3 linked regions of the Homo sapiens genome follow. The protein of the gene in region 3 interacts with the protein of the main gene of each other region in a biochemical or structural test. Each region holds a gene or a part of one and is shown on either strand. Other genes may lie near its edges. The genes, in order: RPA1, RAD52 and SEM1.

Evidence for each region.
Region 1: the proteins of SEM1 (region 3) and RPA1 are reported together in a solved structure, tested with the Homo sapiens proteins (one study listed by BioGRID).
Region 2: the proteins of SEM1 (region 3) and RAD52 form a complex in vitro, tested with the Homo sapiens proteins (one study listed by BioGRID).

What each region holds. Positions count from the first base shown.
Region 1 is NC_000017.11:1,878,476-1,882,126, forward strand, and holds part of RPA1 (replication protein A 70 kDa DNA-binding subunit), read left to right. Parts: intron 1-517; coding exon 518-586; intron 587-739; coding exon 740-932; intron 933-1,084; coding exon 1,085-1,224; intron 1,225-2,067; coding exon 2,068-2,216; intron 2,217-3,651. UniProt on the Homo sapiens protein: As part of the heterotrimeric replication protein A complex (RPA/RP-A), binds and stabilizes single-stranded DNA intermediates that form during DNA replication or upon DNA stress.
Region 2 is NC_000012.12:925,580-929,230, forward strand, and holds part of RAD52 (DNA repair protein RAD52 homolog), read right to left. Parts: intron 1,685-3,651; coding exon 1,566-1,684; intron 1,368-1,565; coding exon of another isoform or gene 1,217-1,367; intron 1-1,216. UniProt on the Homo sapiens protein: Involved in double-stranded break repair. Plays a central role in genetic recombination and DNA repair by promoting the annealing of complementary single-stranded DNA and by stimulation of the RAD51 recombinase.
Region 3 is NC_000007.14:96,703,210-96,706,860, forward strand, and holds part of SEM1 (26S proteasome complex subunit SEM1), read right to left. Parts: intron 1-3,651. UniProt on the Homo sapiens protein: Component of the 26S proteasome, a multiprotein complex involved in the ATP-dependent degradation of ubiquitinated proteins.

The sequences.
Region 1 (3,651 bases), on a different chromosome or scaffold from region 3:
GACAGAAAAGCAAAAGTGAAAATCAGATCACAAGCAACTTGCAAACATGACTTACTCTGACATTTTTGGCAATGGCTCCGAATGTGAAGTGGTTTGTCACTGAGAGGGCACTGTGGAGGGAGCCGGTGAATCACCCCGTGGCAGCACCTTCCTCGTGGGCTCTGGGCGTGTCCCTCAGTATTCAACTTTTTTTGTTTTTATTGTCAGAATAAATTAAACTCGTCATTGCCGTTTTGTTCTGTTCTGTTTCTCAGTTGAGGCTAATGCAGCATGATTATGGGATCGGCTAGCTGAAATTCTCATTCTTCAGCGGGGCCAGTGACTTCAGTGTGTGACTGTAAAATGCGGGTTCCTGGGATGTCCGTAGCCCTCTCTGGACCCTGTTTGTGCAAGGGCCACTGCTCTCAAGATGTCACTTTGGTGCTAGGGTGGCCTGTGTTCTATCCCAGTGTCACTTGGGTGCTGGGGTGGCCTGTGTTCAATCCCGCAGCCCTAACCTGCCCACGTGCTTCTGCAGGGTGAAATCCGAGCTACAGCTTTCAATGAGCAAGTGGACAAGTTCTTTCCTCTTATTGAAGTGAACAAGGTATGGCCGTGCTGACTTTAGAACTGACACCGCCTGGGGGTGGAGTGCGGATGAAAAGACGCTGGCCCAGGGGAGGGGTGTGTGGTGGCAGACTAGGGGTTTCTGTCCGATTTGATGGTAGTCTCAGGTTCTGTGGCTTGGCCTCCTTCGCAGGTGTATTATTTCTCGAAAGGCACCCTGAAGATTGCTAACAAGCAGTTCACAGCTGTTAAAAATGACTACGAGATGACCTTCAATAACGAGACTTCCGTCATGCCCTGTGAGGACGACCATCATTTACCTACGGTTCAGTTTGATTTCACGGGGATTGATGACCTCGAGAACAAGTCGAAAGACTCACTTGTAGGTAAGCTCGTGTATGAGAAGGAAGAGCAGGGATGACTAGCTTTCTTTGCAGTGTACGGGGTGGTGTCAGGCTTCAGTGCTTGCCGTTCATCATTTGCTGGCGTCGGAATGGGAGTCTTGACCACCTCCTGCTAACACGTGCATGTGTTTTAGACATCATCGGGATCTGCAAGAGCTATGAAGACGCCACTAAAATCACAGTGAGGTCTAACAACAGAGAAGTTGCCAAGAGGAATATCTACTTGATGGACACATCCGGGAAGGTGGTGACTGCTACACTGTGGGGGGAAGATGTAAGTGCTGGGATGGGGTCTTCAACACGCACAGGACCTCCTGGGGTTGGGGCGTGGTCTTGTCCTATAGGATGGGGCCTTCAGCACACACAGGAGGAGCTCCTGGAGTTGGGGGAGGGAGTGGTCTTATCCTATAGGATGGGGCCTTCAGCACACACAGGAGGAGCTCCAGGAGTTGGCGGAGGGGGCATCTTGTCCTATAGGATGGGGCCTTCAGCACACACAGGAGGAGCTCCTGGAGTTGAGGGAGGGAGGGGTCTTGTCCTATAGGATGGGGCCTTCAGCACACACAGGAGGAGCTCCTGGAGCTGGCGGAGGGGGCGTCTGTTCCTATAGGATGGGGCCTTCAGCACACACAGGAGGAGCTCCTGGGGTTGGGGGAGGGAGGGGTCTTGTCCTATAGGATGGGGCCTTCAGCACACACAGGAGGAGCTCCTGGGGTTGGCGGAGGGGGCGTCTTGTCCTATAGGATGGGGCTGTTAGCACACACAGGAGGAGCTCCTCGTGGGGGCGGTTTTGTCCTATGAGTTGGGGGCTTTCACCATGTAGATGGGAAGGATTGTGCTGTCTGGTAAGTATTTAAAATCCTTTATCTTACTTCTGTGAGATTTGCTGTGATTCAAGCTTTACGCGGGGAAATGCTCTTTCCCCTAACTCTAGGAAAGCAGTGATAGTTTTGATGTGTCTCTGAGTAGATTCTCATGTGTGAGGTCTGTCTTGTATGGATTCCATGTACGCTGATTACATTCACTCTACTATTGAATGTTTGCCTTGTTTTCTATAAAAATCTTCTGTGTTCTTCCTGCTAGTGACACTTGTATATGTCTGGTGTTTCTTTTACAGGCTGATAAATTTGATGGTTCTAGACAGCCCGTGTTGGCTATCAAAGGAGCCCGAGTCTCTGATTTCGGTGGACGGAGCCTCTCCGTGCTGTCTTCAAGCACTATCATTGCGAATCCTGACATCCCAGAGGCCTATAAGCTTCGTGGATGGTAGGTTTTGTGGGGCTAAACAAAGGGTTACTTGAGGCTGGGCTTTGAGAAAAGCTGGTTACAATCAGCATGGGAGCTTTCTGCCAAGCAGAAGCCTTCGTCCCTGAGTGGTGCAGCTTCCGTGTTTCTTGAAGGCATTATGCCTTCTGTGAGGAGGGCTTTAAAGCCCTTAAACGGACAAACCTGTAATCCCAGGACAAACCTAGAGAGTCGGAGGAGGCAATTAGCATGTAAGTGCTGCCTGCTGACCTCGATCCTGCCAAAGGAGGGGACGGCCAGGCTTCAGCAGCGGTGTGCTGAAGGCGCCTTTCTTTCCAGGGTTTAGGCTCTGGGCCTCTGTGGCGTGGGGGAACACATGCTTTCTTTCTCTGTCAAGTCTTTGGTGCCGATCACATCTTCTAGTGTGTATTCACTAGACTCTGATCAAGTGTGGTGAGAACAATGGGCTTTTTGTTAGGATTAGATTGTTATTCCCAAAGCACTCAAGGGATGAGGAGAGCCTGTTAAAATCTCCTCACTGTATCTAGCTTTTTAGGACATTCAAACTCTGTCTTAAAAGAGTACTTCAAACTGAGACACAGGATGCAAGAATTGATGTGGTCAGGGAAAACACTTTCACCCAAGCTTCAATAATTCCCATAGCTGTAGTCTATGGGGGGGAAGTGTGTCAGTTTCCAGCTGTGTCTTAGGATTTAAGCAGCTAAAGAATGAGCTCATTTTACATACTCCTCCTTTGTTTTGAGTCATTTAAACCAATGGCACTGGTGTTTGACCAGTTTCATGAAGCATCTTCTGGAATGTTCATGTCACTGAGCCATCCTCATGAGTAGTACGGTCCACACGTATCTGCCGAACTGCAGGGCCCGTTCATAGTCTGACCAGAACTAGCCACAGATTTGCTTTTTTCTTATTGCTTGATTTTCTTTTAGGCTCTGGAGTTCGACTCCAGGTTAATTGCATTCCCACATTAAAATCGCATTCCCACATTAAAATTGCATTCCCACATTAATGTCTTCATCTTTTACTTGTCAATAATCATGATCCCAGTCAACATAAAAAGCACGGCTGTCCCCAGAATAAAATAACTTGGCATTGATCAAAGACAAGCTCAGTGCATACATGATACCTGGACAAGGATTAGAGATGTTTAGATCTTGGCTATAACAATGCAGAGTTTTTATTGTAAGAAGGGCCGCCTTGACTCCTGACGAGTGATCTTTGGTGGCAAATGTCTCCTTGGAGCTTTTGAAACCGTGAACTTGTGTAGCTAGTAGTGGTGAAACAGATGGATGGGCCTTGCTGTGCCCCTGTGAGGGATTTAGCCGCTTACCTGACAGGAGAAGGCAGCTGTCTGCAGCTCAGGGTAACATCCATTCTGTTAGATGGTCTCTGTTTAAGGAACCTGTTCTTTGTGTGGTTACCCACCTTGGGATGG
Region 2 (3,651 bases), on a different chromosome or scaffold from region 3:
ATCAGAGAATAGAATTACAACTTTTGTACAGGTTGCTTCTCAGGAGCAGCAGAGGAAGTGGACCCTAACATGCATTCCCCATTGATGTCTGGTAAGCATCTAGCATGTTCCTGCACTGTGTTAGTTTCTGAGAATACTGCAGTGAGGACAAGACACAAGTCCCTGCCCTCACAGAGAAGATGAGTATGAAAAGATTACGGCGCCATTCACAAAACCCACCAGCCACCTCCTGACATGGAGAACAAACTGCAGAGAGTTTTTCTTTTTTTTCCCCCCAAAGGCTGCTCCAATTTCCCAGCAGGAGTAGGCAACACACACTTGGGGACCGGGGGCTCAAGGGCACAACCTCCCATGACCAGAGTTCTTAACTTGGGATCTACGGACTCCCCCACAGAACTCATAGGTTTTTCTGGTTCAATTCACTTCAATTCTCAAAGACACGGATATGGTTTGGATGTTTATCCCCTCCAAATTTCATGTTGAAACGTGACCTCCAATGCCGGGGGGTGCGGCCTGGTGGGAGGTACTGGATCCTGGGGCTGGATTCCTCATAAACAGCTTAGTGCCATCCCCTTGGTGTTGAGTGAGTTCTCACTCAGCTCATGAGAGATCTGGTGGTTTTGAGTGTGGGGGCTGGGCATGATGGCTCATGCCTGTGATCCCGGCACTTTGGGAGGCACAAGGCAGGAGGATGACTTGAGCCCAGGAGTTTGAGACCAGCCTAGGCAACAAAGGGAGACCCTGTCTCTCCAAAAAAAAAAAAATTTTTTTTTAATTAACTGGGGGTGGTGTTATGTGCCTGTGATCCCAGCTACTCGGGAGGCTGAGGCGGGAAGATCACTTCAGCCCAGGAGTTCAAGGCTGCACTGAGCGATGACGGCACCACTGCACCCCAGCCTGTGCAACAGAGCAAGACCCTGTCTCAAAAAATGAAAAACAACAATAAAATAAATAAATAAGCCTGGGACTCCTTCCTTCTCTCTCTTGCTCCCTCTCTCTCCACGTTCCCTCTTCACCTTCTGCCATGATTAGAAGCTTCCTGAGGCCTCAGCAGAAGTGGATGCTGGCACCAGGCTTCCAGTACAGTCCACAGAATCATAAGCCAATCAAACCTCCTTTATTTATAAATTACCCAGCCTCTGGTATTCCTGTATAGCAACATAAATGGACTAACACGGACATCTGCGTGACTGTGTAACTACGTTAACTATGCTACCTGTGCGTAGCGGAGGACTGCTGAGGAGCACGGAGAGGAGGGTGCTGTCTGTGCACTCGCAGTAGGAGTGGGAAGGCCTCCGGCACACATGACTGAGTGCACGGAGAAGAGAGAGTACAGGATTCTACCACTTACTCCCAGCAAGGGAAGCCTGAAACAGAAACATTGAAAAAATACTAACGAAAGTGGGAAAACGGCAGACAGGAACCAGGGCAGGGGTGAGAATTACCTTCCACGCTGCTTGGATTTTTGAACCATGTGGATGTGTTACCTCTTCCAAAAAAAATCGAAATCTGCTCTGAAGCAAGAGCTGAAATGACGCAGGTTAGACTCCCAGCCCCGCGCTCACCTGAGGGCTCGCTTCAGCCCGTCTGTCACCGCCTCCTTCCTTGCCTTCTCCAAAGATAAAGCCTTGGACTTGAGGCCCTCACTAACACCATAACCAACATCTTCATGATATGAACCATCCTGGGGGCAGAAAAGGAGTTTGAACTCAAACACGAGAGCGGCAGGCGTGCCACAACTCCCCTGTTCCTCAAGCAGCAGGGTTCAAAGCCGGACTCTCCCACCTGGCGGCCTTGCTACAGGGGCACGGGCAGAAGGCTGGGTGAGAATCCATCGCGAGTGCTGCTTCCTAGACCTGGGCTGCCTGGACATGTGCCTGCGGTCAAGGTGTCAAGACGATCCTCCCTTCCCAACTTCCCAACACACAAAGGGCACATTAGAAACTCACCCCAAATCCTATCAGTGTGCATCACCCTAAGGTAAAAAAAACCTCTGGGATGGCCGGGCCGGGCGTGGTGGCTCACGCTGTAATCCCAGCCCTTTGGGAGGTCAAGGGAGGTGGATCACTTGAGGTCAGGAGTTCAAGACCAGCCTGGTCAACATGGTGAAACCCTATCTCTACTAAAAATACAAAAATTAGCCGGGTGTGGTGGTGGGCACCTGTAATCCCAGCTACTCAGGAGACTGAGGCAGGAGAATCACTTGAACCTGGGAGGCAGAGGTTGCAGTGAGCCGAGATTGCACCACTGCACTCCAGCCTGGGTGATAGAGTGAGACTACGTCTTGGAAAAAAAAAAACCTCTGGGATATGAAACAAAGGGATGATTTGAACACTGGATCTAATGGTCTGTAAGGACGGGAGAGCAAACCCTTTGTAAATCAGGTGGCGTCCAGCTCCTGCCTCTCACCAAAAGAGAAGGTGGACCTGAGCACATCATTCGCTGATTGAGAATTAAATACAATGTTTGATGACAGCGCTCTGTGATTTTTAAAAAATAACTCAGAAAGCACTCAAATAAATGAGTGACACTATAACACAATTCTTTCCATTCTCAGCTACTCACTCATAGATACAAGATTTTTTAGTACTATTTAGAAAAATAAGTCAGAATAGAATTAATGCTGAATTGTTCATTCAAGAAATAAGTAGGCCGGGTGCGGTGGCTCACGCCTGTAATCCCAGCACTTTTGGAGGCCAAGGCGGGTGGATCACCTGAGGTTGTGAGTTCCAGACCAGCCTGACCAACATGGAGAAACCGCGTCTCTACTGAAAACACACACAAAAAATTAGGCGGGCGGGGTGGCGCATGCCTGTAATCCCAGCTACTTGGGAGGCTGAGGCAGGAGAATCGCTTGAACCCAGGAGGTGGAGGTTGCGGTGAGCTGAGATTGAACCATTGCCCTCCAGCCTGGGCAACAAGAGCAAAACTCCATCTCAAAAAAAAAAAAGAAGTAAGTAATATTCAGTTATGGATATATGGATATATAAACTAACTGAAAAGAAAAAACAGCACCATCCATCTCATTAAGATATACATTTTCCATAAATTTTATATTTTAAATTTTTTATTTTTGTGGCAAGATTTCATATCTTTAATTTTTCTAAGTATCAAAATTTTGCTGTATTTATGTTTTCTCTTCACCATAAACACAATTGTCTGGTCAATTGTGTGTTAACAGTAGCTATAATATAACTAAATCCAAAAGAAATATTTTAATATTTAGAGCCTTAAGTGCACTGAAAATTTACCAAAAATTTTTATTTTTATACACAGGCAAAGGCAGAGAAGCACAGTAAGGCTACCGATAAAACTTTTCTTTTTTTCCACCCAGGAGTTCAGTGGCGCAATCACAGCTCACCACAGCCTCGACTTCCTGGGCTCAGGTGATCCTCCCACCTCAGCCTCTTGAGTAGCTAGGACTACAAGCATACACCACCATGCCCAGCTAATTTTTTGTATTTTTAGTAGAGACGGGCTTTCGCTATGTTGCCCAGGCTGGTCTCAAATCCCTGGGCTCAAGCAGTCCTTCCACCTGGGCCTCCCAAAGTGCTGGGGTTACACGAATGAGCCACCCCGCCTAGCCAAACTTTCAACCATAAATATGTATTAGGATTAAAACCAGTGGGGAAATAGAATAGAAATATGAGT
Region 3 (3,651 bases):
TCATGTTGGTACTCAGAAAGTTTGAGATTCCGGAGGATTTCAGATTTGGGATGCTCAACCTATAGTAATGCATCAGTGCGTTAATTTCCTGATTTTGATGGTTGTCTTGTGACTATGTCCTTGTAGGAAATACACATTAAAATACTCAGGAGTGATGGCCATCAGGTTGGCAACTTATTCACAAATGGTTTAGAGAAAAATGTTTGTACTGTACTTTCAACTATTCTGTAAGTTTGAGATTATTTCAAAATAAAAATTATATTATAAAAAATGAGTCTGCCAATTCAATTTGGCAATTCTTCTCTAGGAGTTTATCTTATAGATTAGCACACACACAAAAAGATGTAAACATATTCATTATCTGTAACAGAAAAAAAACAACAAAACCCAAGCAACAAAAACCCTAAAGCTATAAGGTTATTCACTGCAGCATATTCCATTTTTTTTTTTTCTTTTAAAGGCCAGGTGCAGTGGCTCACCTGTAATCCCAGCACCTGGGAAGACTGATGGGAAGACTGCTGAGGCCATTAGTTCAGTACCAGCCTGGGCAACATAACGAGACCAAATCTCCACAAAAAATTTGAAAGAACAAATTAGGTGAGATGGCACATGCCTGTACTCCCAGCTACTAGGGAGGCTGATAGGGAGGCTGAGACAGAGGATCACTCAATCCCAGGAGTTCAAGGCCGTAATAATCTGTGACAGCGCCACTGTACTCCAGCCTGGGTGACAGAGCACCAGAGCAAGACCTTGTCTCTTAAAAACACACACACACACACACACACACACACACACACACACATACATAAAAGAACCAAAGAAAAAACCCTAATATCTATCAAGAAGGGACTAGTTAAATAGACTATTTAAGATGAACACAATGAGGGCATGAGGTAGATTTTTATATTGATGCAAAAATGTACCTGAGATACATTAAATAATAAAAATCAAGTAGGAGGAAATAGTATATATCGTATGTCTTCTGTGTATGTATTTAAAGGATACATACAAACAAGTACAATTTATAAATACATTCTGGAAGGATACTAAAGAAAAAAACATTTAACGTTGGTTATCACTGGGACATAAATAACTTTTTTGGGGAATTGTAGAGGGAAACTGTGTTTTTACTTTTTAATTTATACTCTCATTAAGTTTAAATTTTTACCATAAGCGGTTACTTATACAATTATCCTATATAATATACTACAAAAATATTTTAAAGAGGAAGTTAAGTAACTAGCATGAGGTGACTAGCTGAAAGTTTATGAATGGTAGATTTGAACCTAGGCCTAATCCTAGATTCATCATGCTTATTCTATCCTGGGGTTCAAAAACTTTCTTCTTGCACACAATTATCAAAAATGGACATTCAACAGGTACTCTTCGAATCATTATACAGATTACACATTTTTTCTTAAAAATTTTTAGTAACATGAGTTCTCCATTTCTTGCTACCACCATGTAACTAATTCAAATGTTTAATGGTTATGTCCACTATATTACATTTAATAATGCAAAAACAGCAAAAGCCCTTTTTGGCACTAGGTAAACTGACTAGCATGGTGTGTGACATTATCAATACTGGTCACATCTATCTTCTACATTTAAGATTCTAAGGAATCCTCCTATTGAATGTTTAGTCCTGTTGGTATATGCTGTTCACATAAATATTTCTCAATAGCATTTTTCACAGGGCAGTTCTTCCTCGTGCAGGCACAAATATAAAATCCTTGACCTCTACCCACTAAATGCTGGCAGTTTTTCTACACTCCTACCTGTCAAGTCAGTGTGACATCCAAAAACACTCCCTTGGTTAAGAACCACTGTAAGATGTCATACTTTTTAAGGCACAGGTGATAATGCCTCATTTATTCCAGAATGCTGGCAGCATTAGGGGATCACCAGTCTGTTGTCTGCCTCAACAGACAGATTCCCATCATAACACTGTCTTATCCAGAAATTTCTCCAGGGGCCAGAGGGTGGGAAGGTGGGTAGTATTCTGCTCCTGATTTCTTCAGACTATATAGAAATTTCACCTAATACAGAAAAAGTATAGAATACTTAGTATAATATCACTCTTGTAAACGCTATTGCTGCTGCAGGCAAACTCAATTTCATTCTAAATATTCTAAAAAAGCTTCTCTCTCAAAAAAAAAAAAAAAACCCTTTCAATTCTGGCACAGGAAGAGAATAAAAGAATCTAAAGGAGCACTTGTTCTCTTCCCTCTTTTACTCGAATCCACATCTAATTGTCAGAGAAACTAATAAAAATATTTTTTAAAACTCTTTCAATAATTTGATATGGAAAAGTAGTCAACGTTTTAAATAAATTAGGCTGGGCGCGGTGGCTCATGCCTGTAATCCCAGCACTTTGGGAGGCCGAGGCGGGCGGATCACCAGGTCAGGAGATCGAGACCATCCTGGCTAACACCATGAAACCCCATCTCTACAAAAAAAATTAGCCGGGCGTGGTGACGGGCACCTGTAATCCCAGCTACTAGGGAGGCTGAGGCAGGAGAATGGTGTGAACCCAGGAGGTGGAGCTTGCAGTGAGCCGAGATTGCGCCACTGCACTCCAGCCTGGGTGACAGAGCGAGACTCTGTCTCAAAAAAAAAAAAAAAGTTTTAAATAAATTATAGACTACTTCAGTTTTTGACTCTATCACCACCAACCTGACCGTATGATTTGAAAAATGAAATCTTCTCTAGACTTTTAAGTTGCCCTCCGGTCCTAGAATTCTAACCATTTCAAAGCTTCCAAAATCATATCAAAATCAATCACACCCAGGACCTTGAATGTCTTCCTAATAAAGGCTGTTCTAAATCAGTTTAAGTAGTCAAGAAGTTGGAGGCTGTATATCACAAAGATCCTAAATATGATTTTTTACAGCTCCTGCTTAATGACCAGAAGATTACACACCCACCAATTAGAATAATTGTGAGGAAATGCCAATGTAGCACCAATTCACAGGCTATAGAATGGGGGAAAAAATAAAAGCAGCATTTGTACCTTCAGAGACTCCTTCCAGATGTTGCACTTTACATTGAAGGGCTATTGAGAAGAAACTATGCTGACATGGTGCCTCACACCTGTAATCCCAGCACTTTGGGAGGCAGAGGCGGGTGGATCACCTGAGGTCGGGAGTTCAAGACCAGCTTGACCAACATGGAGAAACCCTGTCTCTACCAAAAATACAAAATTAGCCGGGCATGGTGGCACATGCCTGTAATCCCAGCTACACGGGAGGCTGAGGCAGGAGAATCGCTTGAACCCAGGAGGTGGAGGTTGCAGTCAGCCGAGATCGCGCCACTGCACTCCAGCCTGGGCAACAAGAGTGAAACTCCATCTCAAACAAACAAAAAAAAAAAAAAAAAAAAAAAAAGAGAGAGAGAAGAAACAATAAAAATTCCCTTTCCTTAAAATGATTAAATGAACATCCTACCAAACATATTCTTATGCAAGATGGGATGTAGCAACGCCACTCCCAAAAGAAAGACCCACTCCCAAAAGAAAATCTATTAGTCGAACCACCAGTAACGACTTTCATGTGGCAACCTCTATACTCCAAGTTACCCGAGAGTGGATAAAATCCACTTTCTGGAGCACTGACACTCAACAAAGCGTTTGAAAGTAAGATCTGTTATAGA